Linked DNA regions of Homo sapiens. The protein of the gene in region 1 interacts with the protein of each later gene in a pairwise test. Each region holds a gene or a part of one and is shown in the gene's direction. Other genes may lie near its edges.

What was found. Proteins that work in one complex are often made in the same cells at the same time.
Region 2: the proteins of CREB5 (region 1) and MMADHC interact in binary tests that used the Homo sapiens proteins (3 or more experiments, as listed by UniProt).
Region 3: the proteins of CREB5 (region 1) and ZNF330 interact in binary tests that used the Homo sapiens proteins (3 or more experiments, as listed by UniProt).
Region 4: the proteins of CREB5 (region 1) and LCE2A interact in binary tests that used the Homo sapiens proteins (3 or more experiments, as listed by UniProt).

What each region holds. Positions count from the first base shown.
Region 1 is NC_000007.14:28,818,018-28,821,517, forward strand, and holds part of CREB5 (cyclic AMP-responsive element-binding protein 5), read left to right. Parts: intron 1-53; coding exon 54-162; intron 163-743; coding exon of another isoform or gene 744-748; exon of another isoform or gene 749-967; intron 968-1,098; coding exon 1,099-1,262; 3' UTR 1,263-3,500. UniProt on the Homo sapiens protein: Binds to the cAMP response element and activates transcription.
Region 2 is NC_000002.12:149,574,276-149,577,775, reverse strand, and holds part of MMADHC (cobalamin trafficking protein CblD), read left to right. Parts: intron 1-1,233; coding exon 1,234-1,339; intron 1,340-1,934; coding exon 1,935-2,065; intron 2,066-3,500. UniProt on the Homo sapiens protein: Involved in cobalamin metabolism and trafficking. Plays a role in regulating the biosynthesis and the proportion of two coenzymes, methylcob(III)alamin (MeCbl) and 5'-deoxyadenosylcobalamin (AdoCbl). Promotes oxidation of cob(II)alamin bound to MMACHC.
Region 3 is NC_000004.12:141,230,895-141,233,045, forward strand, and holds part of ZNF330 (zinc finger protein 330), read left to right. Parts: intron 1-544; coding exon 545-591; intron 592-1,630; coding exon 1,631-1,748; intron 1,749-2,151.
Region 4 is NC_000001.11:152,697,064-152,699,942, forward strand, and holds LCE2A (late cornified envelope protein 2A), read left to right. Parts: upstream 1-1,281; 5' UTR 1,282-1,331; intron 1,332-1,818; 5' UTR 1,819-1,838; coding exon 1,839-2,159; 3' UTR 2,160-2,379; downstream 2,380-2,879. UniProt on the Homo sapiens protein: Precursors of the cornified envelope of the stratum corneum.

The sequences.
Region 1 (3,500 bases):
GGGTTTGTATCCTCTGGTCTTCTCAACATGGTTTTAATACATATCTCTTTTAGAATGAAGTGTCTATGTTGAAAAATGAGGTGGCCCAGCTGAAACAGTTGTTGTTAACACATAAAGACTGCCCAATAACAGCCATGCAGAAAGAATCACAAGGATATCTAAGTAAGTCGCCGACTTTTTCACTTTTCTTTAGTGTCCAATATTTTTTGCCACTAAGTTTGCACTGAATTTGATTGAAAGAGCAAAAGTAAAGTGTAGATTGTACTTCCAGGCAGATATACAAGAATTCTTGAGTGGCTTCCAGACTATTCTTCCAAGGGGATCCCTTTTTTCTGACCCCTGTGCAACACCATGCCCACCACCTCCTGATAATTTCTGGCCACTCCTTCCCTAGCATTTCAAAGTATCAAAAGAAATACCAAATTCCAATTTTGCAGCCAGTAAGAAAAGAGCCAGCTGAAGCCCAAGTACCAGTGGCCTAGCAGTCGCCTTCAGAAATCTGTGGTCTGGGAACCAGGCCTTGGGTGAATCATATCCAGTGCCTCCAGAAACACTGCATGTTACTCACTGGGCTGAAAAGCTAGTGACTGGCCTCAGTTTACCAATATGTAAAATGATCCCTTCCTTCAGACCCCAGTTTCTGCATCTGGAATGCCAGTTGGTTAAATGATAGTTGAGTAGGGATGGTGGGAGGAGCAGGGATTCATGGCTGAAGGTCAATTTATTTTCAAATAATTTTTTAGATTGAGCAACACAGATTCTCCCACCACATGTGAGTATTTTTCCACATTTGATATACGGATGGCTATTTAAAAAGACAAAATGGGGAAGTTCACATATCCATGACTGAAACACATCAAATCATTTTACTGATACAGAAAGCATGGCTTTGCTCGTAGATATAAACTGGAAAGGCATAGCATTGTGACAACAGTTGAAAATAAAGTTTTGAAATTAACTTTCAGAAGAAAATGTGTGAAACTTCTATTTCAAGTAAATATCTAGTACAGTTTCTCTGAGGAGTCCACAAGTCCATACAAAAAAGACCTATATTGGTGTGTGTGTATGTGTGTGTGTTGTCTTTTTTTTTCTCCCTAGGTCCAGAGAGTAGCCCTCCTGCTAGTCCTGTCCCAGCTTGCTCCCAGCAACAAGTCATCCAGCATAATACCATCACTACTTCCTCATCGGTCAGCGAGGTGGTAGGAAGCTCCACCCTCAGCCAGCTCACCACTCACAGAACAGACCTGAATCCGATTCTTTAAAATGCACCATCAGACCTGGCCTCCAAGAAGAGCTGTAGCGTACCATGCGTCCTTTCTTTTAAGGGCATTTTTAGAATTAACTCAGACCTGGAAGACTCCTCAGTTCTTCAAAGACTGGCTTTCATTTTTATAGTTATTATGGAAATGTTGTCTTTTATACTTAGTTATATAAGAAAAAAGGGAGTTATGCAATTAATATCTATCAGCTTGGGAAACGCTTTGGTGCTTTTCTCCAGTTTTCTGGTACCAGTTACTTGTTTATAAACTGAACCTTTTCTGTATATAGCCATGGTTTCATTCTTATCAGTCCAACCCTTTGCCTGAAACATTGAATCTTGTTAAACCACAGCTTTTAGCTAAAATGAGGTATACCTAGATGTCAAGTAAGACAGATCCAAGGTAACTGGGTAGGAAATCTTTTGACATCTTAACTCATGTTGAGTTTGTGCTGTGGTGTCACCAGAATTCCAGATAAACACACAGCCTTTCCCATACCTTTTTTTTTCTTACTATAAAATATTATAAGATCCATTGATGTCCAAATAATACCACCAAGCATCTCTTCACCTCTCCTCCTCTTGGTCCACTTGCTAATGCCCAGTTTTCTTCTCCATTTCCACTTTTTCTTAGGCTCCCTATTTACTATTCATTTTGACTTCCTTCTGTTTTATTTTTTTCCCTTTAGCATTGCATGTGAATAAGAAAATAATGTTTAAAGAAAAAAAAAAAAAAGCAAACCTCCAAAACGTGGACCTAACCATTGCTTCACTTACACTTCACCCACAGCTGGAGTTCATTCAACTCTTGCTTTTCACAAAATAGTAACCAGGAGATGTTTAATGTGCCTGATTTAATGTTTTTAATAATCACAGCAAATGAAAGGTGGTTTAGTTATAAGTGAAGCATGGTTGAATACCAGCTGGGGAGACACTAGGGAAGGGAGCTTTGTAAGCCTTGATTGCGAAAGTCCAAATTTTGATGTGGGGCTATAACATGACACCCTTGGATTGCGACTGGTTTTATACGGCCTGCCTATAACGTTGAAAATCCATGTACTACATAATAATTCAGAAGGGCTCTATTCACTACACAGATTACATTGTTCAATCATCAGCTGCTAATAGCCTAAGATTTATTTTTTTTTTTTTCTTAAGCCTATGGAACCGGCTTTGCTGTTCTGGGGGGTGAAAATAGACTAACTACTGGAGAAACAAAGAGAGAAAGAAAACCCAGTGTTTCCATAGGGGCACTTTTAGCCTTCCCACAACAGTTAAGCACTCTTTGACTGCTGAAGGAACCCCATGGATGAGGTGCAGGCTACTTCACTCTTTTTTTTTCTTTTTTGAGACAGAGTCTCACCTATTGCCCAGACTGAAGTGCAGTGGTGCGATCATGGATCACTGCAGCAGCATCCTCCGAGTTCAAGCTATCCTTCCACCTCCGCCTCCTGAGTAGCTGGGACCACAGGTTCACATAACCATGCCTGGCTAATTTATTTTTACTTTTATTTTAAAATAAAAGATGAGGTCTGTCTTATGTTGCCCAGGCTGGTCTCAAACTATCCTACTTCTTCCTCCCAAAGTGTTGGGATTATAGGTGTGAGCCACTGCACCCAGCCTACTTCACTCTTCTGAATTATTCTGATTTATTTTCAACAACTTTTGTGAACTTGCCCGTGATACAAAGCAGATAGTCCCTGAACCACAGTCGTGCCTCCTTGAAACAAGCCATTCTACTGTGCTAATGTTTTAATATCACATCTCACAAATAACAGGGGTGAATGTTTCTCTCTAGCAATCTAGGCAGGTGCTGGTGTTTCATCTCCATTTGAATGCTTGACCTCTTAATGTGTGTGTGTGTGTGTGTGTGTGTGTGTGTGTTCATGGGTTTTAAAAGAACAGTATTTTACAAAAGGTGTAGCTTTTATAAGAGTGCAGAAAAGGGAAGGATGTGTTTTTTTCTCTCACTATAGTATAAGAATCTATTTTGGAGAAAAAAAGAAAATATGAGGGTCTCGAAGCATGATTTTTATATAACTAGTTTCAGTTTTATCTAATAACTTACTTTTTAAATCAATATTTATCAACAATCTTTCCTTGTATGCAGTGCTTTCAAAAGATGGTTTTGAGTGTCCAGTGAAACTTATGACTTGGATATATGGTTGAAGAATCAAAACAAAAGCAAAAAAAAAAAGCAAAAAAAGAAAAGAGAAAAAAAGAAAAAATGCAAATGGAATAA
Region 2 (3,500 bases), on another chromosome or scaffold:
AGTTCTGGGATTACAGGCGTGAGCCAGTGTGCCTGACCACTCCTGTTTCTTTATAAATGTCACATGAGGATAGTAATAATCTCTAGCCCACAATATTTTTTTTTCTTTCTTTTTTTTTGAGACAGAGTTTTGCTCTGCAAATCTTGGCTCACTGCAACCTCTGCCTCCTGGATTCAAGCAATTCTCGTGCCTCAGCCTCCCAACGAGCAGGGATTACAGGCATATGCCACCATTCCTGGCTAATTTTTGTATTTGATATTGCTGTTTCTCATTGCCTGTAGACTAAAGTCCAAATTTCTTAATGCTGAATAAATGGCATTTCATAATTTTGATCCCTTACCTTTCCCACCTTATCTGCCACTACTTCCTATTCCCTCTGCACTCCAGCCACAACATACTTGCCATTTTTCTTGAATACACATTCTGTGTCTTTGTACTTTATTATCTTTTGCTGGACTATTTTTCCTCCTGAATTCCTAACCTCTGTACCAGCTATTTTTTACCTGTCAGACATAACACATCAACTAACTTGTAGCTCAAATATCACCATTTCAATCATTTCCTGATTCCTCCCAGCAAAGTAAGTTTCTTCCTCATCTATGCCCCTGGAAGACTTTATTCATAACTCTGTAGCACTTGTCATATTTAATTGCATTTATTTGCTTGTACTTATTTTTTTTTATTAGGCCTGAAATAGCTGAGAGTGAGGACTGAATTTTTTACCATTGCAGCGCCTGCTCCTGTCATAGTGCCTGATGTATAGTAGGCTCTCAGTAAATTTCAGTTGAATAAAAGCCTCTAAGCTCTTCCTGTAGGAGAGGCTGTATTATTTAGTCATGTATCTTGTAAGTTAGTATCATTATCCCCCTTTTACAGATTATAGAAGAAAAGATAATTAAATATTACCATAAAATAGAAGAGGTAACATTATGAGACACATTATGGCATTTTAGTTACTTAGCCAATTTCTGTTTATACCAAGTTTTAGAATATCAGTATATTTATATATTCATGCTCTGCTGTATTCACATTTTTTGAACTTCCAAATCTTATATTCATTGTAGAGAAAAGTTTGAGTAAATGAGAAAATGTTATTACCTCACCTCCCAGTTAGATTATAATTTTTTGTAAAAACAAACAAAAAGCTTTCTAAGGAAGACAGGTTTATAACAGGCAAGATACCGTTTTATTTGAACTCCAGATTTTGTTGACTTATATCCTTGTTCCCCTTAGGGTAATGATGCACCTGTTGAACAAGAAATTAACAGTGCAGAAACTTACTTTGAAAGTGCCAGAGTAGAGTGTGCAATACAGACATGTCCAGAATTGCTGCGAAAAGGTATGTCATGCTTTATACTTTGAAACACTGTTACTAATTTTTTTAATATGTTGAATAATGTACTCTATAGAAATTGGAACGCTGTATACCTTAATATTATATTTTACCGTATCTGGCTGGAAATGATTGCATGGCCAAGATAAAGGCTTTGAAATGTCCTGTGACATCTGACCTCATGCTGCCATTAGATAGGAAGAGTAAAATTTTTAATAACTTTTTTCCTAAGGCTAAATTAAAGTCATTTTTACTCCTGGGTGATTATTAGAGTTATAATTTTATGAGTTAATATAATACGGAAAAATCTTAACAGTAAGCATTTTTGAAAATTATATTAACCCCAAATAACGTGTAATCCTACTTACCCTTCAGGATTGTTGGTAGTAATATTTCAGTTCATCCAACAAAAGCAGAAGTAAACAAAACTAAGTGAATTTTACCCTTTTCAAAAATAACATACATTTATAAAAATTAACTAATACCACAGTAATTTTACTTAATCAGCATTTTTCTAAAGAAGTACTTTTATCCTTCTTTAAAAATTTGTTCTTTAAAAATCAAATTCTTTTCTACCTGGAATGTTTATTCTTATTTGTAGATTTTGAATCACTGTTTCCAGAAGTAGCTAATGGCAAACTAATGATTCTGACTGTAACACAAAAAACTAAGAATGATATGACTGTTTGGAGTGAAGAAGTAGAAATTGAAAGAGAAGTGCTCTTAGAAAAGGTAATTCTTTCAATTGCTAATAATTTAATTTTATGGTCATTATTTAAGTAATAGTGAACCAATGTCTTAAAATGATGACTGTCATTTCCACCCTTTATTCATTTTCTGCCAAAGTATTATAATACTAAAGGACTTACATCTTTTTTGAGAGTAAAAGTGCAGCTTTTTAGTATCCTTAAAAGTTTAGATTCTGTTTATTACTTTCCTCAATTTATTTTTAAAAAGTCTATTTTGGAAAATTTGGTAAATGACAAAAAGGTAAAATTAACTCTTTATCCTTCTCCCCTCAGCCTCCCCCTCCCTCTCCTTCTCCATCTCCCCCTTCATCTCCCCATCTTCCCCTCCAAATCTATCCCCTTTCTCCTGGGCTTAGAACATGTCAAAATAAAGAGTGAAAATTATGCCAGTTCTCTCCAAGAGTAAACAGTAACAGTATGCAGTACAATAATAGTGTAATAATGTATACCCACATTTTTTTCTGTGGTTTGCTTTTAACCTAAAGTATGCTTTGACATGTTTCCATGCTTACACATAGATATATTTCATTCTTTATAAAATCTGCATAGTATTAATATCACAGGGTAAACCATAAACTTTTTAATTTATTTAAGAATTTTAACTGGGTGCAGTGGCTCACGCCTGTAATTCTAACACTTTGGGAGGCTGAGGCTGGAGGATTGCTTGAATCCAGGAGTTTGAGACCAACCTGGGCACTGTAGTGAGACCCTGTCTCTACAAAAAAAATTATCCAGGTTTAGTGGTGCGCACCTGTAGTCCCAGCTACTCTGGAGGCTGAGGTGGCGGATCACTGGAGCCTGAGAGGTCGAGGCTGTAGTGAGCCTTGATGGTGCTACTGCCCTTCAGCCTGAGCGACAAAGTGATACCTACCATCTCTTATAAAAGAAGTTTCTTAGTCATTTATAAGTTTAAAATCCAACTTTTGCTATTATAGGCAACAAGCAGTGACAGTCTTTTTACAAATACTTTTATGCATGCTAATATCTATAGATTCCTAAATAGAGAATTGCTGAATCAGTGTGTATCTACATTTTAAATTTTGATAAGACACTTCCAATTTGCCCATCAAAAAGACTGTTCTAGTATATAAGCTGTCATGCTAGCTTACCCTGGGTGTTAGCAGTTCTTTCCAACTCAGGTTAGCTAAGGGGCCCAAGTCACTAACTTGAGTTAAAAAATCCCTTTAGTGATTCCTGTGTAGGATGTTAGGAAGTATTTTATATTTGGGATTAGATGTATGGTCTTTATTTGTAAAAGTATATTGTAATTTACATATTCAACAATATTATAATTTCACATTTAAATGTCACATAACTGCTAATAGATTTCGTGTGGTTTTTAACAATCACAAGCATATTAGTTATATACTAATTAACAAGGGAGTTATAGAGAGTTATAGGATATTTTCTATTTACAT
Region 3 (2,151 bases), on another chromosome or scaffold:
ATTGAAATGAGACACCATATAAAACAATAGCATGTGGTACTTGGCATTTAAAAAGCCCTTTTTAAATAGTAGTTACTATTATAGGAAAAAGACCGAAATTCCCCAGGTATTCTCTTCCTTTAATTTGGTTCTTGTTCTGGTATGAAATCCTAATTATTATACTTATTTATAAATTTAAAGTAGATAAGTCATCTCTGTGATATACATACAACATACATACTACACACACATAGACACACAATGTGTATGCATGTGTATATAATTCTTGCAATATTTATATATAAAATTCTCAGATTAAAAGAGCATCTCGAAGTATATAGCATTTTTGAGCCTTTCGTCGCCTTTTGCAGAATGTATAATAATAAATTTAATTATTTTATTTGCAGCATGGGAGCTTTGTGTGTTTTATAGCATTTGAACCCAAAAGACAGGCAGCTGTCTATAAGGCTATATTCCATTGCAAGCTTTTAGTGATTTGATAAAAGACAAAAGAAAATTCTAAGAACCAAATAACGGGATTTTAAAATTAATCTATTTCCCACAGGTGTTTCATGCAATCGGCTTGGTCAGCACTCATGTCTCCGTTGTAAGGTATACCAATGCGTTTTTTTCTTTTTAGATTTTGTTTTTAATCTCTATACCCCTCCACCAGTCCTTGGCTTATATGCAGCTATAATTAATTTATAAGGGACCTTAAAATTATGTAGTCTAATTCTTTTATTTTTGAGACTGTGGAATTGAAGTTGAGAAAGCTTACATGACTTTCCAATGGTCATCCAGTCACCTTTTAGTAGAGCTGTGGCTAGTGCACATTTCTCTGGAATCCTGGCTCTGTGTTTTTAGTGGAGAACATTCTGACCAAGATGATGAGAGTCTATTTTAATTAATGTCAAAATATACCTGCTTAGAAGAGTTTGGGTAAAGATTTCCAAATTTTTCTGTGTCCTTAGGCCTAGTCTCTAGCATTCGTTCGTCAAAGATTACTAAACAGATGCAGCCAATGCCCTTCCTCTCAGAAGCGTTTCTCTAGTTCTTATATTCCTAACCCTATGTCTTATTTATCTTCCAACTCTGTTCTAGTTTTACCAAATGGTGTTCAGGCATTATCTGTGTTTTCTTTGTCTGGAATACTTTTCCATCTTGGCTTACCCTATTGCCCTCCCATTCTTCATATGGCTATTAAGACTTCGTGTCTCTAAGATGCCTTTCCCAAATCCCATGTCTGCTTTAGTGCCCTTCCCTCTGCACTTCCCGTTCAGTGCTTAGTGTCTTGTAATTGCCTTTTCACTGTCTCCATCCCTAGTTAGACCATACACTGTGTGAGAGTAAATAGGCTGTTCACCATTATTTCATTTCATCAGGGACCTTATGAGTACTGAAATATTTGTGAACAGCTAAATGTACTTACATGTCATACTCAATATAGTCTGCCTTTTGTTAGATCATTGTTCAGAAGGGTCCTGACAAAAACCATTTCTGTTAAGAAAATGAAATGAGAAGTGTGACTGCTCCCAACAAAATTGTTAATCTCACTGCCTTAATAAAGCTATATCTTTAAAACACTGAATACTGTCTTTTTGTATATTTTTACATTTTTATTTATTTACTTTATTTTGCTTCTCCTATACAGGCTTGTTTCTGTGATGATCATACAAGGAGCAAAGTGTTTAAGCAAGAAAAAGGAAAACAGCCTCCTTGTCCTAAATGTGGGCATGAAACTCAGGAGACTAAGGACCTTAGCATGTCAAGTAAGGCCCTTAAGATACTAAGGAAGTGATTTTTGCTTTCATACTTAGACAAAGTTTATCTTTTTTTTTTTTGGTCTATTTTTCTTATTGCCTCTTCTTATTTGAAAAGATGAATGTGTTCTTTTAAGCAAGTGGAATTTTACAGCTTAGGAAAATATGTGGGTAAAGTTTTTCAGTTTTACTTAAATAGACCAATATTCATTTTGATATTTGGTATTTGCCTTAGTTAATGACAGCAAATACTGAAATTTAAGATAAAGAGTGATTTTTTTTTATTTTTGTTGAGTCTTCCTTGTTAAATAGTTGAGTAGCTATAATTCCTTAATATTAAAGTGGTGGTAATTTTAAGTACCTAGAAGTCAAATTCACTCTGAAGCTATCTTAGGTGTGTGATATTTGAGCA
Region 4 (2,879 bases), on another chromosome or scaffold:
TACATCTGAGACTAGAAAAGAAAACTATTGGAGATGGGGCATCTCTTAGTATGACAGAAATGTAAAGACCATATACTCCTACCTTCTAGACCAAGGGTATATGAAAGAAGGGACTATCTTTTTCAAAAGCTGTATTCTAACTTATGCCATACAGTAGGTTTTCAGTAAATGTTGGATGGATGGATGAAATAAATTGATTAATGGATGAATGTATCTAATCCAAAATTGTATCAGATTCCTTACTCTCCTGTCATTCACTAAGAAGATTAAATAAATCATTTGATTCCCATCACCTTCTTGACAAGAAATAATTAGACTTCTCAAAATCCTGAATGTACACTGTACATTCCTAAGAGAGCCTTCGCTAGCCTACCTATATTTTTAAATAAAATTTTCAAAGACAGGGACTGAATATTGTCCATTTTTCTGTCTCACACACTGCCCTCGTTCTTTTAAAAAATGACATTGTTTAAGTGTCTTCCTTGTGCCTTATCATGTGCAAAAGCCTCACTTGATGGAACCAACAATTCAGAGAGGAAGGTGCTAATAGGCCTGTTTTACAGTTGAGGATTTAGATTGTCTATATATAGTCTTTGAGGTCACTGGGCTCATAAACACAGAGCTCTTCTGATTCCAATTCAAAAAACTATTGGCTTATTTTAAAAACTGCCTTGTTACACAGTAGACATTTTAATTTCTAAGTGAAGAAGTTTAGTCACAATGATCATCACCACCAAATCTGAGGAAACCATCTTGATTCACTTATTAATCCTCCTAGCAGGGTTCTGCAGGCCACACAGCAACATGGGGTCAGGAATGAGGGCTGAGCAGAAGGGGAGGAGTGTATCCTAGGAAGGAAATGGTCTCTGACTCAATGCCACAAAGAAACCTGCCTAGCTGTGGAAGCAGGGCTTGGAAAACTATACTTGGGGATGGGAAGAAGCTGGAATAGCATACTTCCACAGGAAAGCTATGGCAAGGATCTCTGGTGTTCTCAGAAGTCACTCTTTGAGCCTTTGTCCAGGCACAAGCTCCTTAAGAATCCCCTGGCAGCTCCACGGGGACCAGCCTGGGGGGGGCTGTGACTGGTTAAAGCTCCTTTAGACCCCCTTCCCAGAGGGAGGTCTTGGGAGCTCCCAGTGCTTCCTTGGATTGTAGGGACAAGGAGGCAGGGGAATGTGAGGAATGACCCAGCACGTGCCTGGTTGTGCAAGAGCCACTTCCCGCTCTTCCCAGAGCCAAGCCTGAGCCTATAAAAGACATATTCAGCTCCAGCACCTCATCTGCTCTGACTTCCCCAGGACGTGTCTGTGCTCCTGTGTGTGACCAGGGTGAGTGGCAACCTGGGAGCCAGAGGGCACAGGGGAATGGGAAGATTAAGGGAGGCTTCAGAGAGTTATTTCTTTGATTCTGTGCTATTATATGCAGAAAAGAGATACAGTCTGACTTGAGTTTCTGGAAATCTTGCCTTGGGCTGTGAGAAATGTGTATCTGACAGTTTCATCAAGGGCTTATTCTTATATTTCAAAAATGGATACTTTGTTGGGTATGAATACTTTATTCAAGCTCATGAAGATTAGAAAATACTGCCTATCTTCTAAAAGAATAAGAAGCTTCTTATTATATCTGATTTTCAAGTATATATTTTCATTCAGCAGGATTTGTTTTCTTTCACTTGTTGATATATATGTGTGTATGTGTATATATATACACACACTGAGTATTATTCACCATCACCATATGATTTAGTTTTAAAAGAGATAAAATTGCCATCCTTGGTTTTTCACAGCTAAAGGGTTTGACTATTTCGAATTTCAGGTTGAAAAAGTCGCACTGAGATGTCCTGCCAGCAAAACCAGCAGCAGTGCCAGCCCCCTCCCAAGTGCCCCCCAAAATGCCCACCCAAGTGTCCTCCAAAGTGCCGACCTCAGTGCCCAGCCCCATGCCCACCTCCAGTCTCTTCCTGCTGTGGTCCCAGCTCTGGGGGCTGCTGCGGCTCCAGCTCTGGGGGCTGCTGCAGCTCTGGGGGTGGCGGCTGCTGCCTGAGCCACCACAGGCCCCGTCTCTTCCACCGGCACCGGCACCAGAGCCCCGATTGTTGTGAGTGTGAACCTTCTGGGGGCTCTGGCTGCTGCCACAGCTCTGGGGACTGCTGCTGACCAGACCTCGAACATCACAGAGCAACCCTTATGGAGAAACTTGCAACCAGGACCTGTCCCAGAGTGATGCTTCTCCTGCCCCTTTTTCTCCTTTCCTTGGGCTGACACACCTTGTGAGGTGTTTTGTCTGTTGTCATGGCCCAAGAGCCCATCCTGGATCCTGATCTTACCTTCCCACTTTACCTCATACAACAATAAAGCTCTTTTGCCTCTTCGTGAAGTACCCTGGCCATTGTCAATTCTTCTATTCTTTTCAAATCCCTTAAAGTCCAGTGCCCCAGCCGTACACTTTTAAGGATGCTTTGGTAGGAGTGGAGTGTGAGAAAGAGGTATGCTGGAAGCAGTCTCCAGAGGGTCAATCCTGAAAGAGCAGCCTCACAGTAGGGCTTCTCAATGGGACTGCCTGTGTGCACTTGGAGACTGTGAGATGTGGACCCTCTCAGCCCAGGCAGGGGCCTGAAGGGACTGACAGCCCCAGGGCTGAGAACCGCTGGCCATGTGCTGCTTGCTCAGTTTAACTCACCATGCTGAATGTAACTTATTTTCATTTTCTCTTCATACCATGATGACAAAGCTAGAAAAATCTTTGGTACTCCAAGCAAAAAGGTATATTTAACAGAATTCTTTTCATCTGATTTAAAATGCTTGGTATGAGAATCAGAACCCTTAGGGGCAAGTTTAAATGACAACTCATTGCCACTTAACTACTCTCCAGGGAGG